Linked DNA regions of Homo sapiens: region 1 is linked to region 2. A link means that fine-mapping ties the variant in region 2 to the plasma level of a protein whose gene starts in the linked region. Region 2 holds a variant in brackets. A gene starts in the other region. All regions are shown on their reverse strands. Region 1 holds the start of TCN2 (transcobalamin 2). Region 2 has its middle 13 kb from the start of CD320.

What was found. PIP is the chance, under the fine-mapping model, that this variant and not a neighbour inherited with it causes the effect. The UK Biobank Pharma Proteomics Project read protein levels with antibody pairs (Olink). The fine-mapping took linkage between variants from a reference panel, not from the people measured, so its PIPs are less certain.
Region 1: it holds the start of TCN2, and the variant in region 2 is fine-mapped to the plasma level of the TCN2 protein (UK Biobank, PIP above 0.99).

Annotation. Positions count from the first base shown.
Region 1 is chr22:30,596,145-30,607,371 of GRCh38, reverse strand. TCN2 (transcobalamin 2) reads right to left here and starts at 198. Exons shown (of 9, transcript NM_000355.4): 1 at 1-198. The coding sequence starts at 40. It also overlaps a transcript of PES1 not described here. RefSeq lists enhancers at 36-330, 1-412.
Region 2 is chr19:8,289,428-8,301,453 of GRCh38, reverse strand. No RefSeq gene overlaps it. Among named protein-coding and RNA genes, the nearest start is that of CD320, 13 kb to the left of the region's middle. RefSeq lists a silencer at 6,682-6,882. The variant A/T (reference allele first, on the strand shown) is at 4,468.

The sequences.
Region 1 (11,227 bases), not on the chromosome of region 2:
GGACCCCCAGAAGGAAGAGGAAGGCCCCAAGGTGCCTCATGGCAGCAGCAGGTGGGTGAGCAGTGAGCAAGAATCGGGAAAGACTCCTGGGGCTGGCCCTGCTGAGGCTCTCCTGACCACAGCTGGTCACCGCTCCGAGAGACGCAGCTTCCTGTCACTGATTAATCCTCCATGCCTGCAATGCACGGCTAAGTCTGCAGAGGGGTGGGGCGGGGGAAGGTCTGTGGTGGCGGGGAACATAAGGCCAAAGAACAGAGGAAGGAAGGGCAGAGCAGCCCTCCTGGAGGTAGGGAACAAAGGGAGGAGGAGGGCTAGTGGGACCATGTGAGACATCTTGAGGCCATTCACGTTCCTGCTTAAAGAGCCCGGGACCAGCGCAGAGGGCCTGATGCCTGATCTGTCAAGTCTGTCCGACCGTGCCTGTCTGCTGTCCCCCCAGCTGTTCCAGTGGTGGATTGGCAGGACCGGGTGCCTACCCGGTACTCCTTACCAAAGGAGCCCCTGGTAGTGCCCACCTAGCCCAGGACAAGGAGTGGAACGGGAGCTGCAGCTGCAGTGGTCACGTGAGCAGCATTGCTGGAGTCAGCTGTTTTTCAGCACCGCCTCCCTCAGTTGTGGCGGGAGGGGATTGTGGGGGTGGGGGAGTTGGGCAGTTGGGGAGGGGGAGTTGGGCAGTTCGGTGGGGGGGGGGAGTTGGGCAATTGAGGGGAGGGTGGGTGCCGCTGGCCCCAGACCAGCCAGGCCACTTTTCTCAACCAATCCGAAAGGGCTGGGAGCCTCCTGGAGAGGACAAAACAAAACAAGTTAAAGAATGGGATTAAGTCCGGGCACGGTGGCTCACACCTGTAATCCTAGCACTTTGAAAGGCTGAGGCGGGCAGATCACTTGAGCTCAGGAGTTGGAGACCAGCCTGGGCAACATGGGGAAACACTGTCTCTACAAAAACACAAAAAACACATACAAAAAACCATAAATTAGCCTGGCGTGGTGGCAGACGTCTGTAATCCCAGCTACTTGGGGGGCTGAGGCAGGAGGATCGCTTGAACCCAAGAGGTGGAGGCTACAGTGAGCCAAGATTACACCACTGCACTCCAGCTTGGGTGACAAAGTGAGACCCTGTCTCAAAAATAAAATAAAATAAAAAGAATGAGATTGAATCGAGACACAAAGCTACCAGAAGCAGGGGTACTTGCCAGAACTCGGAAAGTAACCTCAAAAAAAATCTCTGCAAACAGGGAAGAGAACAAAAGATTCCTCATCTGCCCAGCCCCACAGGAGAATCAATGTATACGAGTTAACTAGTGGTGGCTGTGTGACTTTGGCCAGGTCACTTAACCTCTCGAGTTTAAAATAGTTCTTCCTGTGTGAGAAGAGAGGGTTAGGCAAGATCATCCTAACAGTTCCCTTTCAGCTCAATTTGTGAAGACACTATGACCTTAAAATATCTCCAATCATTTCCATGCACAATCTGCATTGCAATTATTTTATGGTAAATTGCCAAGGTTCACTCTTTTAAGACAATCTTTTTGAGCCTGATTTATCACAAACCAAGCCCTTGACATAAATAAATACAGCAACGTGTGTCTGTTTACGGAACTACTTGAAAATTTTAAATGATAGGTTGTCCAGTCAGAAAGGCTGGATGTGGCCACTAGGAGGAGCACCCCTGGAGGTTCTGAGGAAGGAGGGAGGCCAGTGGGGAGCCCAACTTCCGCAGAACCGCACGTTTGGACCTTCAGGGGAGTCATGGTGAAGTGTGTGCAATGGAGCCACCTTGGTCCTGGGTGGGACTGCCTTGGCTCCCCCAACCCTCTGCCTGTTTCCAGTAACAACTATTATGATTCCTATTTCCAGGAAGGCAGCCTGGAGGAGGTGGCCATGGAGGATAGCCTTCGTTATCGTCAGCCTCTGGTGAGAAGCAGCAGCATCCTTCCAGAGAGTCACTTCTGATCCCCAAGGTAGTTAGGGTGTCGAAGTAAAGGAGGGAGACACCCCCCTGCCTACCTACCTGGACTCAGTGCTAGAGGGTGGGGGAGTAGGAATAGGAAGACAGCATATTTCCCATACATATTAGAAATACTGGTGGCTCATGCCTGTAATCCCAGCACTTTGGGAAGCCAAGGCAGGAGGATTGCTTGAGCCCACAAGTTTGAGACCAGTCTAGGCAAGATGGTGAGACCCTGATTCTAAAAAACAAACAAAACCAAAAAATGCCAGGGATGGTGGTGTGTGCCTGTAAGTCTCAGCTAATCTAGAGGCTACAAGTGGGAGGATCACTTGAGCCCAGGAGGCTGAGGTTGCAGTGAGCTGAGATCAGACCACTGCACTCCAGTCTGGGCGACAGAAGGAGACCCTGTCCTAAAAATAAAGTAAAATTAAAAAAAGAAATAGAGTGACTGGTCAGGGGTAGTGCTATTTCAGGTCATGTGGTCAGGGAATGTGAAAAACAAAAATGATTACATCATTTAGATCAGGATTTCTATTTTTTTTATTTTTGAACTCCTGGGCTCAAGCGATCCTCCTGTCTCAGCCTCCCAAAGAGCTGGGATTACAGGCATGAACCACTGCACCTGGCCAGATCAAGATTTCTATTTGTGGTGAAAACTAGCTTGGAATGAGAAAGTAAAAGTCTGCCTGTGCTCCCACTAGACTGGGATAACAGGGACCTCTAAAGCCAGCTGCAAGCCAGCTGCAACATCAACAGGAAACATTTCTTATTTTTTCTTATTTATTTATTTTTTTTGAGACAGGGTCTCACTCGTTGCCCAGGCTGGAGTGCAATGGCATGATCTCGGCTCACTACACCCTCCTCCCGGGTTCAAGCGATTCTCCTGCCTCAACCTCTTGAGTAGCTGACATCACAGGCATGCGCCACCACCCCCAGCTAATTTTTGTATTTTTAGTAGAGACAGGGTTTCACCCTGTTGGCCAGGTTGGTCTCGGACTCCTGACCTCAAGTGATCTGCCTGCCTCAGCCTCCCGAAGTATTGGGATTACAGGCATGAGCCAGCGCGCCTGGCCAACAGGAAACATTTCTATCAAGGCCATGCATGCTACAGCTATTTGGGTGACTACTACTTTTTTTACTGATTATTTATATTTTTCCCCCTAAAAGCACAAGCAATCAGAAATTTGCTGTTTGATATCCTATTAGTAAGAACAGAACATCCCACTGTTGCCTAAAAGAGCTATGTCATTTTGACACAGACAAGCAGTCTCAGATAAGGTGTTTCTGGACTCAGCATTCCACATTTTTCTTAACTTTGTAGTTTCCAAGGAAACAAGACTCTAGGTCCACTTTGCCGTCCAGACCTGAAGCGGACCCTTCATACACAGCCCTGTGATACTTGGAGCCTGCTTGCCTCAAAACACTGCTTGCTTTACACTTCACCTAACTCCACCCTTCCCTTCAATTCTTTAATAACCTTTCCCTTTGTTCAGCCAGATCACTATAGTTCCTCTGCTGGGTGGTTTCCCTCATTGGAATAAGTCAACAACTGGGTTTGTTTCTGGTGGTTTTAGGCTGACTTGGCGAGGACTAGCCTAAAAATTAACCCAAAAGAGAAAAATAAAATTGTATGCATGAAGATGGCATGAGAAGAATGAATATAACAAATACACAACTCTAGTTCTATATGAAATATCTATTTTAGTGATTAAAAGTGTATATATATTAAAATCATATTTTAAGGCCAGGCACAGTGGCTCACACCTGTAATCCCAGCACTTTGGGAGGCCGAGGCGGGTGGATCACCTGAGGTCAGGAGTTCGAGACCAGCCTGACCAACAGGGTGAAATCCAGTCTCTACTAAAAATACAAAAATTAGCCGGGCATGGTGGCATGTGCCTGTGGTCCCAGCTACTTGGGAGGTTGAGGCGGGAGAATTGCTTGAACCTGGGGGCCAGAGGTTGCAGTGAGCCAAGATCATGCCACTGCACTCCAGCCTGGGTGACAGAGCAAGACCCCATCTCGGAGAAACAAAAAACAAAAAACAAACAAAAACAGAAAGAAAGAAAAGGAGGAAGAGGAGGAGAAAGCAAAGATAAAATCATAAAAAAATCCCATCAACTAGAGCATTGGTTCCCAACTGTGGTCACTGGATGACTGGTAGTCTCCAAGAACCTTTTAGGGGGCCTGTGAGTTTAAAATTACTTTCAAGTGGCTGGGCGCAGTGGCTCATGCCTGAAATCCCAGCCCTTTGGGAGGCCGAGGTGGGTGGATCACCTGAGGTCAGGAGTTCGAGACCAGCCTGACCAACGTGGCGAAACCCAGTCTCTACTAAAAATACAAAAATTAGCTGCGCCTGGTGGTGGGCTCCTGTAGTCCCAGCTACTTGGGAGTCTGAGGCTGGAGAATTGCTTGAACCCAGGAGGTAGAGGTTGCAGTGAGCCAAGATTACGCCACTGCACTCCAGCCTGGACAACAGAGCGAGACTCCTTCTCACACACACACACACACAAATTGCTTTCAAGTTAAGATAAATAGCAAGACACTATTAGTGTAATAGTAAGACATTTCATCAAATGGTGCAGGAACAATTGGATGTCTATATGCAAAACAAATCAACCTAAACATACACCTTTCACAAAAAATTAACTTGAAATAGACCTAACTATGAAACACAAAACTATAAAACTTCAAGAAGAGGTGATGCCTTTTTAGATACAACACCTAAAGCATAGTCCATCAAAGAAATAATTGTCTGGGTGCAGTAACCTCAGCACTTTGGGAGGCCAAAGTGGCAGGATCACTTGAGGCCAGGAGTTTGAGACAAGCCTGGGCAACATAGTGAGCCCCTATCTTTATCAAAAGAAAAGAAAAAAAGGAAAAGAAAATAAAAGAAAAAAGAGGCCGGACATGGTGGTTCACACCTGTAATCGCAGCACGTTGGGAGGCCAAGGCGGGTGGAACTCTTGTGTCAAAAAAAAAAAAGTATTAGTTTTCACACTGCTATAAAGAAATACCTGCAATTCGGTAATTTATAAAGAGGTTTAATTGACTCACAGTTGTGCATGGCTGGGGAGGCCTCAGAAAACTTGCAATCGTGGCAGAAAGCAAAGGGGAAGCAAGCACCTTCTTCACAAGGTGGCAGTAGAGAGATTGAGAAAGTGCCACACTTAAAACCATAGCTCTTGTGAGAACTCCCTCTCTATCATGAGAACAGCATGGGGGAAACCACCTCCATGATCCAGTCACCTCCCACCAGGTGTCTCCCTCAAGTGGAAATTACAATTCAAGATGAGATTTGGGTGGGGACACAGAGCCAAACCACATCAGAAAAAAAAGAAAAGAAAAGAAGGGGCCAGGTGCGGTGGTTCACACCTGTAATCCCAGCACTTTGGGAGGCCGAGGCGGGTGGATCACAAGGTCAGGAGAACAAGACCAACCTGATCAACATGGTGAAACTCCGTCTCTACTAAAAATACAAAAATTAGCTGGGTGTGGTGGCACGTACCTGTAATCCCAGCTATTCGGGAGGCTGAGGCACGAGAATCACTTGAACCTGGGAAGCAGAGATTGTAGTGAGCTGAGATTGGGCCACTGCACTCCAGCCTGGGAAACAGAGCGAGACTGTGTCTGGAAAAAAAAAAAAAAAGTTCATAACTTTATTTGTAACTGCTAAAAACCGGAAGCAGCCAAGGTATCCTTCAATGAATGCATAAACAAATTGCGGTACATCTATACAATGAAATATTGCATATATAAAAACAGTGATAAAACTAAGTGAGCCATTAAGCCATAAAAAGACATGAATGAGGCTGGGCGCAGTGGCTTACGCCTGTAATCCCAGCACTTTGGGAGGCTGAGGCAGGCAGATCACTTGAGGGGCAAGAGTTTGAGACTAGCCTGGCCAACATAGTGAAACCCTGTCTGTATTAAAAATACAAAAATGAGCCAAACATGGTGGTTCACACCTGCAATCCCAGCTACTCGGGGCTGAGGCAGGAGAATCGCTGGAACCCAGGAGGCGAACGCTGCTGTGAGCTGAGATCGCACCACTGCACTCCAGCCTGGGCGACGGACTGAGACTCCATCTTAAAAAAAAAAAAATTAGATCAAATAATCGTTGGCAAAAAGCATTAAGAGAGATAAAGAGGATGTGTCAGATTGTGTTTTCAAAGCTGTCTAACAATACCAGCTGTTCCACATGGTTTTCTGTAATTTTGTCATTCATCCATGAAGAGATGAGTCTAATTCCCCTCCCTTTGAATCTAGGCAGGTTTGTGACATCCTTGTCAGTAGCAGAATGCAGAAGTGATGATATATAACTCGAGGTCAGAAAAGAAAATGCAACTTCCACCTTGCTCACTTGAACACTTGAGCTGGAGTACTGAGCTGTCATGTAAGCAGTACAACTGCCTTGAGGCAGCTACAAACTGATCCACAAAGGTAATCCACATGGATAAACCCTGAGATTACCTTAAGAGAGAGAGATCGATCCAGCCAGCTCCCAGCTTTCCATACCCCTACTATTCCAGCTTTTATCGCATAAAAGATGTCAAGACAGAACCATTTAATGGAGCCCATCCCCAATTTTTTTTTGTTTTGTTTTTGAGATGGAGTCTCGCGCTCTGTCACCCAGGCTGGAGTGCAGTGACGCGATCTCGGCTCACTGCAAGCTCTGCCTCCGGGTTCACGCCATTCTCCTGCCTCAGCCTCCTGAATAGCTGGGACTACAGGCGCCCGCCACCACTCCTGGCTAATTTTTTGTAGTTTTAGTAGAGACGGGGTTTCACCGTGTTAGCCAGGATGGTCTCCATCTCCTGACCTCGTGATCCACCGGCCTCGGCCTCCCAAAGTGCTGGGATTACAGGCATGAGCCACCACACCTGGCCTTATTTTTATATTTAATAGAGACAGGACCTCGCTTTTTTGCCCAGGCTGGTCTCGAACTCCCGAGTTCAAGCGATGCTCACACCTCAGCTTCCCAAAGTGTTGGGATTACAGGTGTGAACCACCACGCCTGGCCAAGAGTTCTTTATCTATGTTATATAAGACTGTTCTGCAGTGAGCAGCTACATGCAAACCTACCCCCTGAAGTCTGAAGGAGCCGAGAGGCTGAAGATAAAAAACCTGACAACCTCAACTTGACACTGCAACCTCCATCTCCCTGGCTCAAGCAATTCTTGCACCTCATCCTCCCAAGTAGCTGGGACTATAGGCTTGTGCCACCACACCTGGCTAATTTTTTTATGTTTTAGTAGAGATGGGGTTTTCACCATTTTGCCCAGGGTGGTCTCAAACTCCTGAGATCAGGCTATCTGCCTGTCTCTGCCTCCCAAAGTGCTGGGATTAAAGGCGTGAGCCACCTAGCCTGGCCCTGTAACGTATTTTTTAAATTGAAAATGACCCAGGCATTTAATGAGCAGTTATTTAATTTAACATAAATATTTTAAATTACATGACAATTGTATTTATAAGCATTTATCATATATATTCATTTATTTTTGCTTTCATTTTCTTTTTGTTTTGAGATGGAATTTCTCTTATTGCCCAGGCTGGAGTGCAATGGCTCAATCTCGGCTCACCGCAACCTCTGCCTGCCAGGTTCAAGCGATTCCCCCGCCTCAGCCTCCCGAGTAGCTGTGATTACAGGCATGTACCACCATGCCTGGCTAATTTTTGTATTTTTAGTAGAGACGGGGTTTCTCCATGTTGGTCAGGCTGGTCTTGATCTCCCAACCTCAGGTGATCCGCCCACCTCAGCCTCCCAAAGTGCTGGGATTACAGGCGTGAGCCACCGCGCCCAGCCTATATTTTTCACCATTGCCTTAGACTAGTTATGAGAACTGAGATATTAGACAAAGGTAATCATTAAATTTGTTATTTTTACAGCCTGTGACTATCAGATGTTCACCTAAGAATCTTAAAATACGTACTTATTTTGTTGATAACTCGGAAGATTTCGCTGTTTCCTATTAAACTAGTTATATTAAATTAGTCATATTTATCAAAAAATCACACACAAAGGTCATTTTGGTTTCGGCTGGGTTTATAGTTTTACAATCTTTATGCCAAACCCCCAACACCCTTAAAGTATCTAGCAGAGACACATGTAAAAAAACTTTGACCAATAAACCAAGGCAAAAATGTATGTTAACAATTTTGAAGACATTTTTATTTTACCAATAACTTTTAAAACCAGTTTATTTATTAAAGATTTACTTGAGTCAGGCCAGACGCTGTGACTCATGCCTGTAATCCCAGCACTTTGGGATGCTGAGGCAAGTGGATCACTTGTCAGGAGTTTGAGCCCAGCCTGGCCAACATAGTAAAAATCCCATCTCTAACTAAAAATACAAAAAGTAGCTGGTCATGGTGGCACATGCCTGTAACCCCAGCTACTCAGGAGGCTGAGATAGGAGAATCGCTTCGAACCCAGGAAACGGAGGTTGCAGTGAGCCAAGATCGCACCACTGCACTCTAGCCTGGATGACAGAGCAGGACTCCATCTCAAAAAAAAAAAAAAAAAAAAAAAAAAAAATTTTACTTAAGTCACATAAACTTGAAAAATATATTTGGGCTTTCTTAATTTACGAGTATTTATTTTTAAGTCAACTTGGTACCATGTAGACACAATATACAACATATGTAAACACATCTAACCACATATATACACAAATAAAAATCTTACAGCTTTAGGCCGGTTGTGGTGGTTCATGCCTGTAACCCTAACACTTTGGGAGGCCGAGGTGCGGGGGTCACTTAAGGTAAGGAGTTCAATACCAGCCTGGCCAGCATGGCAAAACCCAACTTCTACTAAAAATACAAAAATGAGCCAGGCGTGGTAGCAAACACCTTTAATCCCAGCTACTCAGGAACCTGAGGCACGAGAATCACCTAAACCCGGGAAGCAGAGGTTGCAGCGACCGGAGATTGTTACCACTGCACTCCAACCTACTAAACAGAGTGAAAAAATAATTTTTTTTTTTACGGGTTTTACCTTAGAGCTCTAATCCTGGCATAGTACTGTGTCCGGAATTGGTGGGTTCTTGGTCTCACTGACTTCAAGAATGAAGCTGCCAACCTTCAAGGTGAGTGTTACAGTTCTTAAAGACGGCATGTCCGGAGTTTGTTCCTTCTGATGCTCGGATGTTTTCGGAGTTTTTTTCCTTTTGGTGGGTTCGTGGTCTCGCTGGTTGCAGCAGTGAAGCCATAGACCTTCCCAGTGAGTGTTACAGCTTATAAACGCAGTGTACACCCAAAAAGTGAGCAGCAGTAAGAGTTATTGCAAACAGTGAAAGAATAAAACTTCAACTGCGATCGAGACCATCCCGGCTAAAACGGTGAAACCCCGTCTCTACTAAAAATACAAAAAACTAGCCGGGCGTAGTGGCGGGCGCCTGTAGTCCCAGCTACTTGGGAGGCTGAGGCAGGAGAATGGCGTGAACCCGGGAAGCGGAGCTTGCAGTGAGCCGAGATGCCGCCACTGCACTCCAGCCTGGGCGACAGAGTGAGACTCCGACTCAAAACAAAAAAAAAAAAAACAAAACTTCAACTGCGTGGAAAAAAAACCGAGCGAGTTACCACAGCTGAGTCGGGCAGCCTGCTTTTATTCTCTTATCTGGCCCCACCCACATACTGCTGATTGGTCCATTTTACAGAGAACGGATTGGTCTGTTTTACAGAGTGCTGATTGGTCCGTTTTGACAGGGTGCTGATTGGTGTGTTTACAATCCCTGTGCTAGACACAAAAGTTCTCCAGGACCCCACTAGATTAGCTAGATACAGAGTGCTAATTGGTGTATTTACAAACCCTGAGCTAGACACAGGGTGCTGATTGGTGCATTTACATACCTTGAGCTAGATATAGAGTGTCGATTGGTGTATTCACTATCCCTTAGCTAGACATAAATGTTCTCCAAGTCCCCACAAGATCAGCTAGACACAGAGCGCAGATTGGTGCATTTACAAAACTTGAGCTAGACACAGGGTGCTGATTGGTGTGTTTACGAACCTTGAGCTACATATAGAGTGCTGATTGGTGTATTTACAATCCCTTAGCTAGACATAAAGGTTCTCCAAATCCCCACTAGACTCAGGAGCCCAGCTGGCTTCACCTACTGGAGCTCATACTGGCAGGACAGGTGGAGCTGCCTGCCAGTCCTGCTCTCATGCTCCCGCACTCCTCAGCCCTTGGGCAGTTGATGTGACCGGGCGCTGGGGAGCAGGGGGCGGCGCTCGTTGGGGAGGCTTAGGCTGTGCCGGAGCCCACAGCGGCAGGGAGGAGACTCAGGCATGGCAGGCTGCAGGTCCTGAGCCCTGCCCCACGGGGAGGCAGCTAAGGTCCAGGGAGAAATTGAGCGCAGCGCCGGTGGGCCGGCACTGCTGGGGAACCTGGCGCACTCTCCGCAGCGGCTGGCCCGGTGCTAAGCCCCTCACTGCCCGTGGCCAGCGGGGCCGGCCGGCTGGCTTCTCCGAGTGCGGGCCCGCCAAGCTCACGCCCACCCTTAACTCTAGCTGGCCCGCAAGCGCCGCGCACAGCCCTGGTTCCTGCCCGTGCCTCTCCCTCCACACCTCCCCGCAGGCTGAGGGAGCCGGCTCCGGCCTCAGCCAGCCCAGAGAAGGGCTCCCACGGTGCAGCAGCGGGGCTGAAGGGCTCCTCAAGCGTGGCCAGAATGGGCGCCGAGGCCGAGGAGGCACTGAGAGCGAGCGAGGGCTGTGAGGGCTGCCAGCACGCATCATCTCTCAGTACTACAGAGTCATCGGTTTATAAAAGATGGTTGGGTCCAAATTATTTTTGACAAAACTGGAACTTGTTTACATGGCTAAACTTTATTTATCCTAATAGGTAATCTAATGGAGGCTGTGAACCAAAATTTTGGGTAGTTTCCATGGCAGTTTGATTTTTAAAATCTTTTTTTTTTTTTTTAAGTTTTAAATGGGGCCAGGCATGGTGGCTCATGCCTGTAATCCCAGCACTTTCAGAGGCTGAGGCAGGAGGACTGCTTGAGCCCAGACGTTGGAAACCAGCCTGGGCAACATAGCAAGACCCCATATCCATATACACACGCACACACACACACACACTTGAAAAAACAATGAGTTTAGGGTTAAATTTTTAATGCTTATATTTTAGCTGGAACCTGGCTGAACTATATAGAAAAAATCTCCAGGTAGCCTTGAATTAGTAACACTGTAAAGAGTTTTATCTCAACACCAGTAGAAAAGTCAACAGACTTAAAGCAGGTAGAAAAATAAAATAGAGAATGTAGAAGACTCTAC
Region 2 (12,026 bases):
TATCCTGGGCATCATAGGGATCTCTGCAAATTTTTTTTTTTTTTTTTTTTTTTGAGACAGAGTTTCGTTCTTGTTGCTGGGATTACAGGCATGTGCCACCCCACCTGGCTAATTTTGTATTTTTAGTAGATAAGGGGTTTCTCCATGTTGGTCAGGCTGGTCTTGAACTCCCGACCTCAGGTGATCCGCCCGCCTCGGCCTCCTAAAGTGCTGGGATTACAGGCGTGAACCACTGTGCCTGGCCTATACATTTTTTTTTAACTAGCTGTGGGTGGTGGTGTGCACTTGTAGTCTCAGCTACTTGGGAGGCTGAAGTAGGAGGATTGCTTGAGCCTGGGAGGTCCAGGCTGCAGTGAGCCGTGATCAGGCCACTGCATTCCAGCCTGCGTGTCACAGCAAGACTGTCTCAAAAAACAAACAAAAACAAGTAATGTACTTGAATCATCCTGAAACCATCCCCACCCCTGGTCCGTGGAAAAATTGTCTTCCATGAAACCAGTCCCTGCTGCCAAAAAGGTTGGTGACCGGTAAAGTTAATTCACACCCTGACTTCTGGGTGACAGGGCAAAGTTCCTCCCTTATCCTCAGCTTCTGAATCTCTGAATGGGATGTTGGGGGCCACAGTAGCCTCCTTGCAGGGGAGTGACCTCCCTGGGACCGTTAGAGATGGACTCAGATGGACCTGTTGCCCAGGTTGGAGTGCAGTAGTGTGATCACAGCTCACTGCAGCCTTGAACTGGGATCAAGAGATCTGCCTGGGCTGGGCACGGTGGCTCATGCCTGTAATCCCAGCACTTTGGGAGGCCAAGGTGGGCGGATCACCTGAGGTGAGGAGTTCGAGACCAGCCTGGCCAACATGGTGAAACCACATCTCTACTAAAAATAGAAATATTAGCCGGGTGTGGTGGCAGGCGCCTGTAATCCCAGCTACTTGGGAGGCTGAGGCAAGAGAATTGCTTGAACCTGGGAGGCAGAGGTTGCAGAGAGCCAAGATCCTGCCATTGCACTCCAGCCTGGGTGACAAGAGCAAGACTCCATCTCAAAAAAAAGAAAAATCCTCCTGCCTCAGTCTCCCGAGTTTTGGGATTACAGTCACATGTATCACACCCAGCTAATTTTTTATTTTTGTAAAGTCAGGGTTGGTCTATGTTGCCCAGGCTGGCCTCCAACACCTGATCTCAAGGAATTCTCCCACCTCGGCCCCCCACAGCGTTGGGATTACAGGTGTGAGCCACTGCATCCAGCCAGGTTTTTTCTCTAACGTTTTCTCTGTCACGAGTCAGCCTCGGCGGACAACAGGGTATGTCAGGGATATGTGTGCCCGGCTGTGAGGCTGGTGTGGGTGCCACATGCCACCTAAGTGGACCTCTAGGCTCTGGACCGTCCTGACTGTCATGCATTCTTGTTCTCAGTGGAGCAAACCGCCCCATGCCCACTGGCTCCAAACACCTGTTGTCGCATCCTCTCTCCTGGCTCTGGGCTGACCAGGCTCACTGGGGGTTCATTTGTTCCATGTGACAGTGGCTGCCATCATCTGGGGGCCAGGCTGGCTGGATGTCCCATCCAGAAGGTCTGTCATGTCTGGGATAGCTGACCTCTCCATGTGGCCTCTCCACGTGGACTCCTGAGCAAGGTGGCCACACTCCTGCCACGGTGACTTGGGGTTCCCCAACACACAAAGCAGAGAGACTGCTGGGTCAATGTTGCCGATGCTGTATTCTGTGGATTCAGTGGAGTCCAGGTCAGCCCAGATCCTGTGTGTGTGTGTGTGTGTGTGTGTGTGTGTGTGTGTGTGTGTGTGAGTGGGGGGAACACATAAGGGCCTGAACACCCTTTTGAGACTATCTCAAAAACATTATTTATTTATTTATTTATTTATTTATTTATTTTTGAGACGGAGCCTTGCTCTGTCTACCTGGCTGGAGTGCAGTGGTGCAATCTCGGCTCACTGCAACCTCTGCCTCCCGGGTTCAAGCGATTCTCCCGTCTCAGCCTCCTGAGTACCTGGGACTACAGGCCTGCACTAACACATCAGGCGAATTTGTTTTCTATTTGTAGTAGACACGGGGTTTCACCATGTTGGCCAGACTGGTCTCGAACTCCTGACCTCAGGCAATCCGCTCACCTCGGCCTTCCAAAGTACTGGGATTACAGGCGTGAGCCACAGTGCCTGGCCAAAAAAAACTTTTTTTATTTTTCTTTTTTTAAAGTCTCCCTCCTCCCCCTCGCCTTTTTTTTTTTTTTTTTTTTTTTTTTTTTTTTTTTTTGGTGGAGTTTCCCTCTTGTTGCCCAGGCTGGAGTGCAATGGCTCCATCTCGGCAAACTTTGCCTCCTGGGTTCAAGTGATTCTCCTGCCTCAGCCTCCCGAGTAGCTGGGATTATAGGCATGTGCCATCATGCCTGGCTAATTTTTTGTATTTTTAGTAGAGATGGGGCTTCTCCATGTTGGTCAGGCTGGTCTCAAACTCCCGACCTCAGGTGATTTGCCTGCCTTGGCCTCCCAAAGTGCAGGGGTTACAGGCGTGAAACACCACGCCCGCCCCCCTCCCCTCTGCCTTTTTTTTTTTTTTTTTTTTTTTTTAGAGATGAGGTCTTTCTACGTTGCCCAGGCTGGTCTCTTAACTCCTCAGCTCAAGTGATCCTCCCACCCTAGCCTCCCAAAGCACTGGGATCACAGGTGTGAGCCATGGTGTCCGCTGTTACCCACTCTTAAGGGGATTGTTTGAGACTAATGAGTCCTTTCTCTGCGGGTTGCCATTTGCACCAACAGAACAAGACCAGGTTCAGTAAAGCAAGATAGAAACTTTATTCGTCAATCAATGAATGGAGAAAGGGAGGAACTCCTGCTCAAAGTGCCTACTCCCTGCAGGTGTGATGAGGGGAGTTTTAAAGTTTCCTAGGGCATGTAGATGCAGACTGGGGGTGGGGATTCCTGGAAAGAGGTGGGGCTTTCTAGGGGGCACTGAAGTGTTCAGCCTTTCTTTTCTTTTGTACCTGGCATTATATGTGCTTAGCAAAGTGCACCTCTCCCCACTGAAGACTTTTTTTTTTTGGTTTTTCTGTTTTTGAGACAGAGTCTCGATCAGTCACCCAGGCTGGAGTGCAGTGGGGCGATCTCAGCTCACTGCCACCTCCGCCTCCCAGGTTCAAGCAATTCTCCTGCCTTAGCCTCCTGAGTAGCTGGGATTATAGGTGTGACCCACCGCACCCAGCTTTTTTTTTTTTTTTTTGAAACAGCACCTCACTCTGTTGCTCAGGCTGAAGTACAGTGGTGCGATCGTAGCTCACTGCAGCCTCGACCTTCTGAGCTCAAGCAATCCTCCTGCCTCAGCTTCCCAAGTAGGTGGGACTACAGGCATGCATCACCACGCCCGGCTAATTTTTACATTATTTTTTGTAGAGAGAGGGTCTTTTTTTTTTTTTTTCTGAGACTGAGTCTCGCTGTGTCGCTCAGGCTGGAGTGCAGTGGCACAATCTCAGCTCACTGCAACTTCTGACTCTCGGGTTCAAGCAATTCTCCTGCCTCAGCCTCCTGAGTAGTACAGGCGCGTGCCACCACACCCGGCTAATTTTTTTTTTTTTTGTATTTTTAGTAGAGACAGGGTTTCACCATGTTGGCCAGGGTGGTCTCAAACTCCTGACCTCGTGATCTGCCCACCTTGGCCTCCTGAAGTGCTGGGATTACAGGCCAAGAGAGGGTCTTACCATGTTGCCCAGGGTGGTCTTGAACTCTCTGACTTAAGCAATCCTCCCTCCTCACACTCCCAAAATGCTGGGATGACAGCTTGGAGCCATTGTGCCCTGGCTGTGGAGATTTTACTCTGCCCATGGAGTGAGGATTCAGGCAGATGGAGCACTGCTGAGGTCAGCTCTCATCTTGTGGCTCAGTTGTGGTTAATGGCATCCGGCCTTCATGCCTGTAAACTAGCACAGCTGTGAGCAGGGGTTAATTTCTTTTTTTTTGAGACAGAGTCTCGCCCTGTTGCCCAGGCTGGAGTGCAATGGTGTGATCTCGGCTCACTGCAACCTCTGCCTCCCAGGTTCAAGCATTTCTCCTGCCTCAGCCTCCTAAATAGCTAGGATTACAGGCACACACCACCATGCCTGGCTACTTTTTTGTATCTTTAGTAGACACCAGGTTTCACCATGTTGGCCAGGCTGGTCTCGATGTCCTGACCTCGTGATCCACCCGCCTCAGCCTCCCAAAGTGCTGGGATTACAGGTGTGAGCCACCATGCCCGGCCAGAGCAGAGATTAATTTCACAGGTTCTGGGGCTCCCTAAAAGAATGGATGTTATAGTCCGGGTGTGGTGGCTTACGCCTGTAATCTCAGCACTTTGGGAGGCTGAGGTGTGGGGGATCACTTGAAGTCAGGAGTTTGAGACCAGCCGCCTTTCTCACCCTCCCAAAGTGCTTGGATGACAGCTGGGAGCCAGTGCACCCTGGCTGTGGAGATTTTATTATGCC[A/T]GTGGAGTGAGGAATCAGGCCTATGGAGCACTGCTGAGGTCAGCTCTCATCTTGTGGCTCATTTGTGGTTATTGGCACTTGGCCTTTGTTCCTGTAAGCTAGCACAGCTGTGAGCAGCGGTTAATTTCTTTTTTTTTTTTTTTGAGACAGAGTCTTGCTCTGCCACCAGGCTGGAGTACAGTGGCGCGATCTCGGCTCACTGCAACCTCCGCCTCCCGGGTTCAAGTCATTTTCCTGCCTCAGCCTCCCAAGTAGCTGGGATTACAGGCGCTCACCACCACGCCCAGCTAATTTTTGTATTTTTAGTAGAGACAGAGTTTCACTATGTTGGCCAGGCTAGTCTCGAACTCTTGACCTCAGGTGATCCACCCACCTTGGCCTCCCAAAGTGCTGGGATTACAGGCGTGAGCCACCATGCCAGGCCGGATACAGGGTCTTTAAAGGGGTGATTAAGGCCAGGTGTGGTGGCTCACACTTGTCATCCCAGAACTTCAGGAGGCTGAGGTGGGTGGATTGCACAAGGCCAGCAGTTTGAAACCAGCCTGGGCAACATAGGGAGAGCCTGCCTCTACTAAAAATACAAAAAATTAGCTCGGTGTGGTGGTGCACACTTGAATCCCAGCTACTCAGGAGGCTGAGGCACGAGAAATACTTGAGAACAGGAGGCAGAGGTTGTAGTGAGCCAAAGATCCCACCACTGCACTCCAGCCTGGGCAAAAGAGTGAGAGTCTGTTTCAAAAAAAAAAAAAAAAAGCCTAAGTGTGGTGGCTCACGCCTGTAATCCCAGCACTTTGGGAGGCTGAGGCAGGTGGATCACCTGAGGTCGGGAGTTCAAGACCAGCTTGACCAACATAGTGAAACCCGTCTCTACTAAAAATACAAAATTAGGTGGGCATGGTGACACATGCCTGTAATCCCAGCTACTTGGGAGGCTGAGGCAGGAGACTTGCTTGAATCTGAGAGGCGGAGGTTGCAGTGAGCCGAGATTGTACCATTGCACTCCAGCCTGGGCAACAAGAGGGAAACTCCGTCTCAAAAAGAAGAAAAGAAAAAAAATTTTTTTAATTAGCAGGACTTGGTGGTGTGCACCCGTGGTCCCAGCTACTCAGGAGGCTGAGGTGGGAAGATTGCTTGATTCCAGGAGGCTGCACTGAGCTGTTAGCGCCACTACACTCCAGCCTGGGAGACAAAGCAAGGCCCTGTCTCAAAAAAAAAAAAAAAAAAAAAAAAAAAGCAGCTGCTGAGAGGTGACAGCGTGCTGGCAGCCCTCGCTTGCTCTCGGTGCCTCCTGGGCCTCCGCGTCCACTCTGGCCGCGCTTGAGGAGCTCTTCAGCCCACCACCGCACTGTGGGAGTCCCTCTCTGGGCTGGCCGAGGCTGGAGCCAGCTCCTTCTGCTTGCTAAAGGTGTGGAGGGAGAGGCGCGGGCGGGAACCCGGGCTGTGCGCAAGGGGCTCGTGGGACAGCGCGAGTTCCGGGTGGGCGTGGGCCCCCGCACTCAGAGCGGACAGCCGGTGCCACCGGCCCCAGGCAGTTGAGGGGCTTAGCACCCGGGCCAGCAGCTGTGGAGGGTGTGCCGGGTCCCCCAGCAGTGCCGGCCCGCCAGCGCTGCACTCGAATTCTCGCGGGGCTTCAGCTGCCTCCCGGCTGGGCAGGGCTCAGGACCTGCAGCCCCCCATGCCTGAGGCTTCCCCCTGCCCTGGGCTCCTGCTCCGCCCGAGCCTCCCTCATGAGCGCCACCCACTGCTCCACGACGCCTGGTCCCATCGACTGCCCAAGCCAAGAGGGCTGAGGAGTCCAGGCGTGTGGCAAGGGACTGGTGGGCAGCTCTACCTCTGACCCCCTGCGGGTTCCACTGCCTGAAGCCAGCTGGGCTCCTGAGTCTAGTGGGGACTTGGAGAGCCTTTATGTCTAGCTGAGGGATTGTAAATGCATCAATCAGCACCCTGTGTCTAGCTCAGGGTTTGTAATTGCACCAATCAGCACTCTGTATCTAGCTAATCTGGTGGGGACTTGGAGAACCTTTATGTCTGGCTAAGGGATTGTAAATACACCAATCAGCACTCTGTGTCTAGCTCAAGGTTTGTAAATACACCAGTCAGCACCCTGTGTCTAGCTCAAGGTTTGTAAATGCACCAATCAGTGCTCTGTGGGGACTTGGAGAACTTTTGTGTCTAGCTCGGGGATTGTAAACACACCAATCAGCACCCTGTCAAAATGGGCCAATCAGCTCTCTGTAAAACAGACCGGTCAGCTCTCTGTAAAATGGACCAATCAGCAGGATGTGGGTGGGGCCAGATAAGGGAATAAAAGCAGGTTGCCCCAGCTAGCAGTGGCAACTTGGGTTGTCTTTCATGCTGTGGTTGCTTTGTTCTTTTTCTCTTTGCAATAAGTCTTACTGCTGCTCGCTGTTTGGGTCCACACTGCCTTTATGAGCTGTAACACTCACTGCAAAAGGTCTGTAGCTACACTCCTGAGCCGGAAAGACCACGAACCCACCAGAAGGAGGAAACTACGAACACATCCGAACATCAGAAGGAACAAACTGTGGACACGCTGCCTTTAAGAACTGTAACATTCACCGCGAGGGTCTGTGGCTTCATTCTTGAAGTCAGTGAGACCAAGACCCCACCAATTCTGGATACACTGCTACATCGGGTCCTCATCCAATCTGCCTGGTGTCCCTACAAGAAGAAGAAATATGGACACTAAGAAATACGAAGGGTGCATGCAGAGAAGAGAGCATGTGAGGGCACACAGGAGGCGGCCGCGGCTCTGTAAGACAAAGCAAGGGGGCTCAGTAGAAACCAGCTCTGGGCCGGGTGCGGTGGCTCACGCATGTAATCCCAGGCGTGATCATTTGAGGTCAGGATTTAGAGACCATCCCGGAAATACGGCAAAACCCCATCTCTACTAAAAATAGAAAAATTAGCCGGGCGTGGTGGTGGGCGCCTGTAATCCCAGCTACTCGAGAAGCTGAGGGACGAGAATTGCTTGAACCTGGGGCTACTCTGGAAGCTGAGGCACGAGAATTGCTTGAATCTGGGAGGTGGAGGTTGCAGTGCAACCAAGATGGTGCCACTGCACTCCAGCCTAGGTAGCAGAGCAAGACTCCGTTTCAAAAATGAAAAGCAGAAACCAACCCTGATGACATCTTAATCTTGGACGTCAGCCTCCAGAAATGTAAGTTTCTGTTTTTAACCTACCCAAGCTGTGGTATTTTGTTATGGCCACCCTAGCAAACTGAAGCTAGTATGATAGCTCAGAAACTCTTTTTTTCATTTTTTTCTTCCTTAGAGACAGGGTCTTGCTTTGGCTCCCAAGCTGGAGTACGGTGGTGCAGTTATAGAATTATAGCTCACTGTAGCCTCAACCTCCCAGGCTTAAGAGATCTTCCCGCCTCAGCCTCCTGATTAGCTGGGACTACAGGTCTGCGCCACTGTGCCCAGCTAATTTAAAACAAAACAAAAAAATGTTTCATACAGATTGGTCAACATGGCCAGACCCCGACTGGTAAAAGCTGGTTAAAAAAGATACTTGTTGATGGTCAGGTGCAGCGGCTCACACTTGTTATCCAAGCACTCTGGGAGGCTGAGGCATGAGGACTGTTTGAACCCAGGTGTTGGAGATCAGCCTGGGCAATATAGTGAGATCTCATTTATACTAAAAAACAAACAAAAAAAATAGCTGGGCATGGTGGCACATACCTGAAGTTTCTGTAGTTGCAGCTACTTAGGAGGCTGAGGTGGGAGGATTGCTTGAGCCTGGGAGATGGAGGCTACAGTGAGCTATGATCACCCATTGCACTCCAGCCTGGGCAATGGAGCAAGATCCTGTCTCTAGAAAACAACAATAAAATATATCTGTTGAATGCTACTATGTATCAGTGCTGTTCCTGGTTCTAACCATGAACAAAATAGCCCTGAAAAAATAGGGCTGAGCCCGGTGGCTCACATTTGTAATCTCAGGACTTTGGGAGATCAAGGCAGGTGGATCGCCTGAGGACTGGAGTTCGAGACCAGCCTGGACAACATGGCAAAACCCCATCTCTACTAAAATAAATTAGCAGCTGGGTGCACTGGTTCATGCCTGTAGTCCCAGCACTTTGGGAGGCTGAGGTGGGCAGATCACCTGAGGTCAGGAGTTCTAGACCATCCTGGCCAACATGGTGAAACCCTGTCTCTCCTAAAAATACAAAAATTAGCTGGGTGTGGTGGCAGGCGCCTGTAATCCCAGCTACTTGGGAGACTGATGCTAGAGAACTGCTTGAACCCAGGAGGCAGAGGTTGCAGTGAGCCGAGATCTTGTCATTGTACTCCAGCCTGGGTAACAAGAGGGAAACTGTCTTTAAAAAAAAAAAAAAAAAAAATTAGCTGGATGTGGTGTAGTGCATGCCTGTAATCCTAGCTACTCAGGAGGCTGAGGCAGAAGAATTGCTTGAACCTGGGAGGCAGAGGCTGCAGTGAGCCGAAATCCGCCAATGCACTCCAGCCTGGGTGACAGCAAGTTCCTGTCTCAAAAAAAAAAAAAAAAAAAAAAAAAAGCTGGTGCGGAGATTCACTCCTGTAATCCCAGCACTTTGAGAGGTCGAGACCAGCCTGGCCAACATGGTCGAACCCGGTCTACTAAAAGTACAAAACTAGCCAGGCATGGTGGTGCATGCCTGTAATTCCAGCTACTCAGGAGGCTGAGGCAGGAGAATCGCTTGAACCTGGGAGGCAAGAGGCTGCAGTGAGCCGAGGTCATGCCATTGTACTCCAGCCAGGGCGACAGAGCGAGACTCTGTCTCAAAAGAAAACGAAAGAGCTGGGCGTGGTGGTTCACGCCTGTAATTCCAGCACTTTGGGAGGCTGAGGTGGGTGGGTCACCTGAGGTCAGGAGTTCGAGACCAGCCTGACCAACATAGTGAAACCCCGTCTTTACTAAAAATACAAAAAATTAGCCGGGCGTGGTGGCAGACACCTGTAATCCCAGTTACTAGGGAGGCTGAGGCAGGAGAATCGCTTGAACCCGGGAGGCGGAGGTTGCAGTGAGCCAAGATTGCACCATTGCACTCCAGCCTGGGCAACAAGAGCAAAACTCTGTCTCAAAAAAAAAAAAAAAAAAAAAAAGAGAAGGTGTTTCTGGTTGCAGTGGGGAGAACAGAACCTGCAGGGAGACCAGGGAGGGGACAACTGCACTGATCCCCAGAAGTCAGGAAGGGGCTGGACCTAGCTGGCAAGTGCAGGTGGTCAGTGATAACTGGCTTCTAGGTCTGTTTTGAAGGAAAAGGCGATGGGGGCTGTAGGATTGGCAGACACATTGGATGCAGGTGGGAGGAGGCGTGGATGCCTCAGAACTGTCAGAGCAGAGCCTGGGAAGATGGTGCTAACTGAGAGGGAGAGGACGCTCGGACAAGGCTTGGGTGGGAAACCCCTAGGAGTCCAGATTGGGACCTGCAACACTGGAGCGGCCTGCGAGGACCCCTTGTGGCAGAGGCTGAGAAGGCACTGGACCCTAGGGTTTGGGCTAGAATGATGAATTTGGGAATTGGCCCAGTTGGGCGTCTGTGGGCTGGAGAGGAGTGAATGCAGCCAAACCTTAGATGTTTTGGAGCTAAGGAAGAATCAGAAAACAGATGAAAAGTTGGGTGCGGTGGCTCACGCCTGTAATCCCAACACTTTGGGAGGTTGAAGCGGGCAGATCCCTTGAGGTCAGGAGTTCAAGACCACCCTGGCCAACATGGTGAAACCCGGTCTCTTGTAAAAATGAAAAATTTAGCCGGGTGTGGTGGCGGGTGCCTGTAATCCCAGCTACACGGGTGGCTGAGGCAGGAGAATCGCTTGAACCTGGGAGAAGGTTGCAGTGAGCAGAGATCATGCCACTGCACTCCAACCTGGGCAACAGAGCAATATTCTGTACAAAAAACAAAACAAAATGAAAAAGAGATGGAAGCGGGGCATGGTGGCTCACATGTTTAATCCTAGCTAGTTGGGAGGCTGAGATGGGAGGATTGCTTGAGTCCCGGAGGTCAAGGCTGGAGTGAGCTATTATTGTACCACTGTGCTCCAGCCAGGGCAACAGAGTGAGACCCTGCTGTATCTTAAAAAGGAAAAAGGGTTGGGCGTGATGGTTCACGCCTGTAATCCCAGCACTTTGAGACGCCAAGGTGGGTGGATGACTTCAGCCCGAAAATTTGAGACCAGCCTGGGAACATAGTGAGACCTCATCTCTACAAGAAATACAAAAATTATTTGGGTGTGGTGGTGCCTGCCTGTAGTCCCAGCTACTCAGGAGGCTGAACTAGGTGGAATGCTTGAGGCCAGAAGGTTGAGGCTGCAGTGAGCCCTGATCTTGCCACTGCACTCCAACCTGGGCAGCAGAGCAAGATACTAACTCGAGAAAAAAAAAAAAACTCATAGATTAAAGTTCATAGCAGCAGGTCCGGCAGCAAAAATTCACCTCTGTTCTCTTAGGATCCCTCTAGGCCTGAGAATTATTAAGTTGACATAAAATGGGTTAACAGGCAGGGCGTGGTGGCTCACGCCTGTAATTCCAGCACTTTTGGAGGCCAAGGCAGCTGGATCACCTGAGGTCGGGAGTTCGAGACCAGCCTGACCAACATGGTGAAACCCTGTCTCTACTAAAAATACAAAAATTAGCCAGGTGTCATGGTGGGCACCTGTAATCTCAGCTACTTGGGAGGCTGAGGCAGGAAATTGCTTGAACCCAGGAAGCGGAGGTTGTGGTGAGCCAAGATTGTACCACTGTACTCCAGCCTGGGCAACAAGAGGAAACTCCATCTCCCCCTACCAAAAAAAAAAAAATAGGGCCAGGCATGGCACAGTGGCTCACGCCTGTAATCCCAGCACTTTGGGAGGCCGAGGCGGGCAAATCACGAGGTCGACAAATCACGAGGTCAGGAGTTTGAGACCAGCCTGGCCAACATGGTGAAACCCCATCTCTACTAAAAATACAAAAAATTAGCTGGGCGTGCTGGCTGGTGCCTGTTATCCCAGCTACTCGGGAGGCTGAGGCAGGAGAATTGCTTGAACCCTGGAGGCGGAGGTCGCAGTGAGCTGAGATTGTGCCACTGTGTTCTAGCCCGGGTGACAGAGCAAGACTGTCTCAGAAAACAAAACAAACAAAAACAGGTTAACAGGAGAGGATACAGATTTACTTAATAGAAGTTTTGCATGGAATAGAAGCCCTCAGAAGAAAATGAATTTGAGAGGTCAAGGCAGGAGGATCCCTTGAGGCCAGGAGTTCAAGACCAGCCTAGGCAACATAGAAAGACCCTTTCTGTACAAAAAATACAAAAATTAGCAGGGTATGGTGGCGTGTGCCTGTAGTCCCAGCTACTCAGGAGGCTGAGGCGGGCGGTGGAGGTTGTGGTAAGCTGAGATCTAGTCACTACACTCCAGCCTGGGTGACAAAGACTCTGTCTGTCTGTGTCTCTCTCTCTCTCTCAAAAAAAGAAGGGTCTGGGCATGGTGGCTCATACCTGTAATCCCAGCACTTTGGGAAGCTGAAGCAGATGGATCACTTGAGGTCAGGAGTTTGAGACCAGCCTGGCCAACAT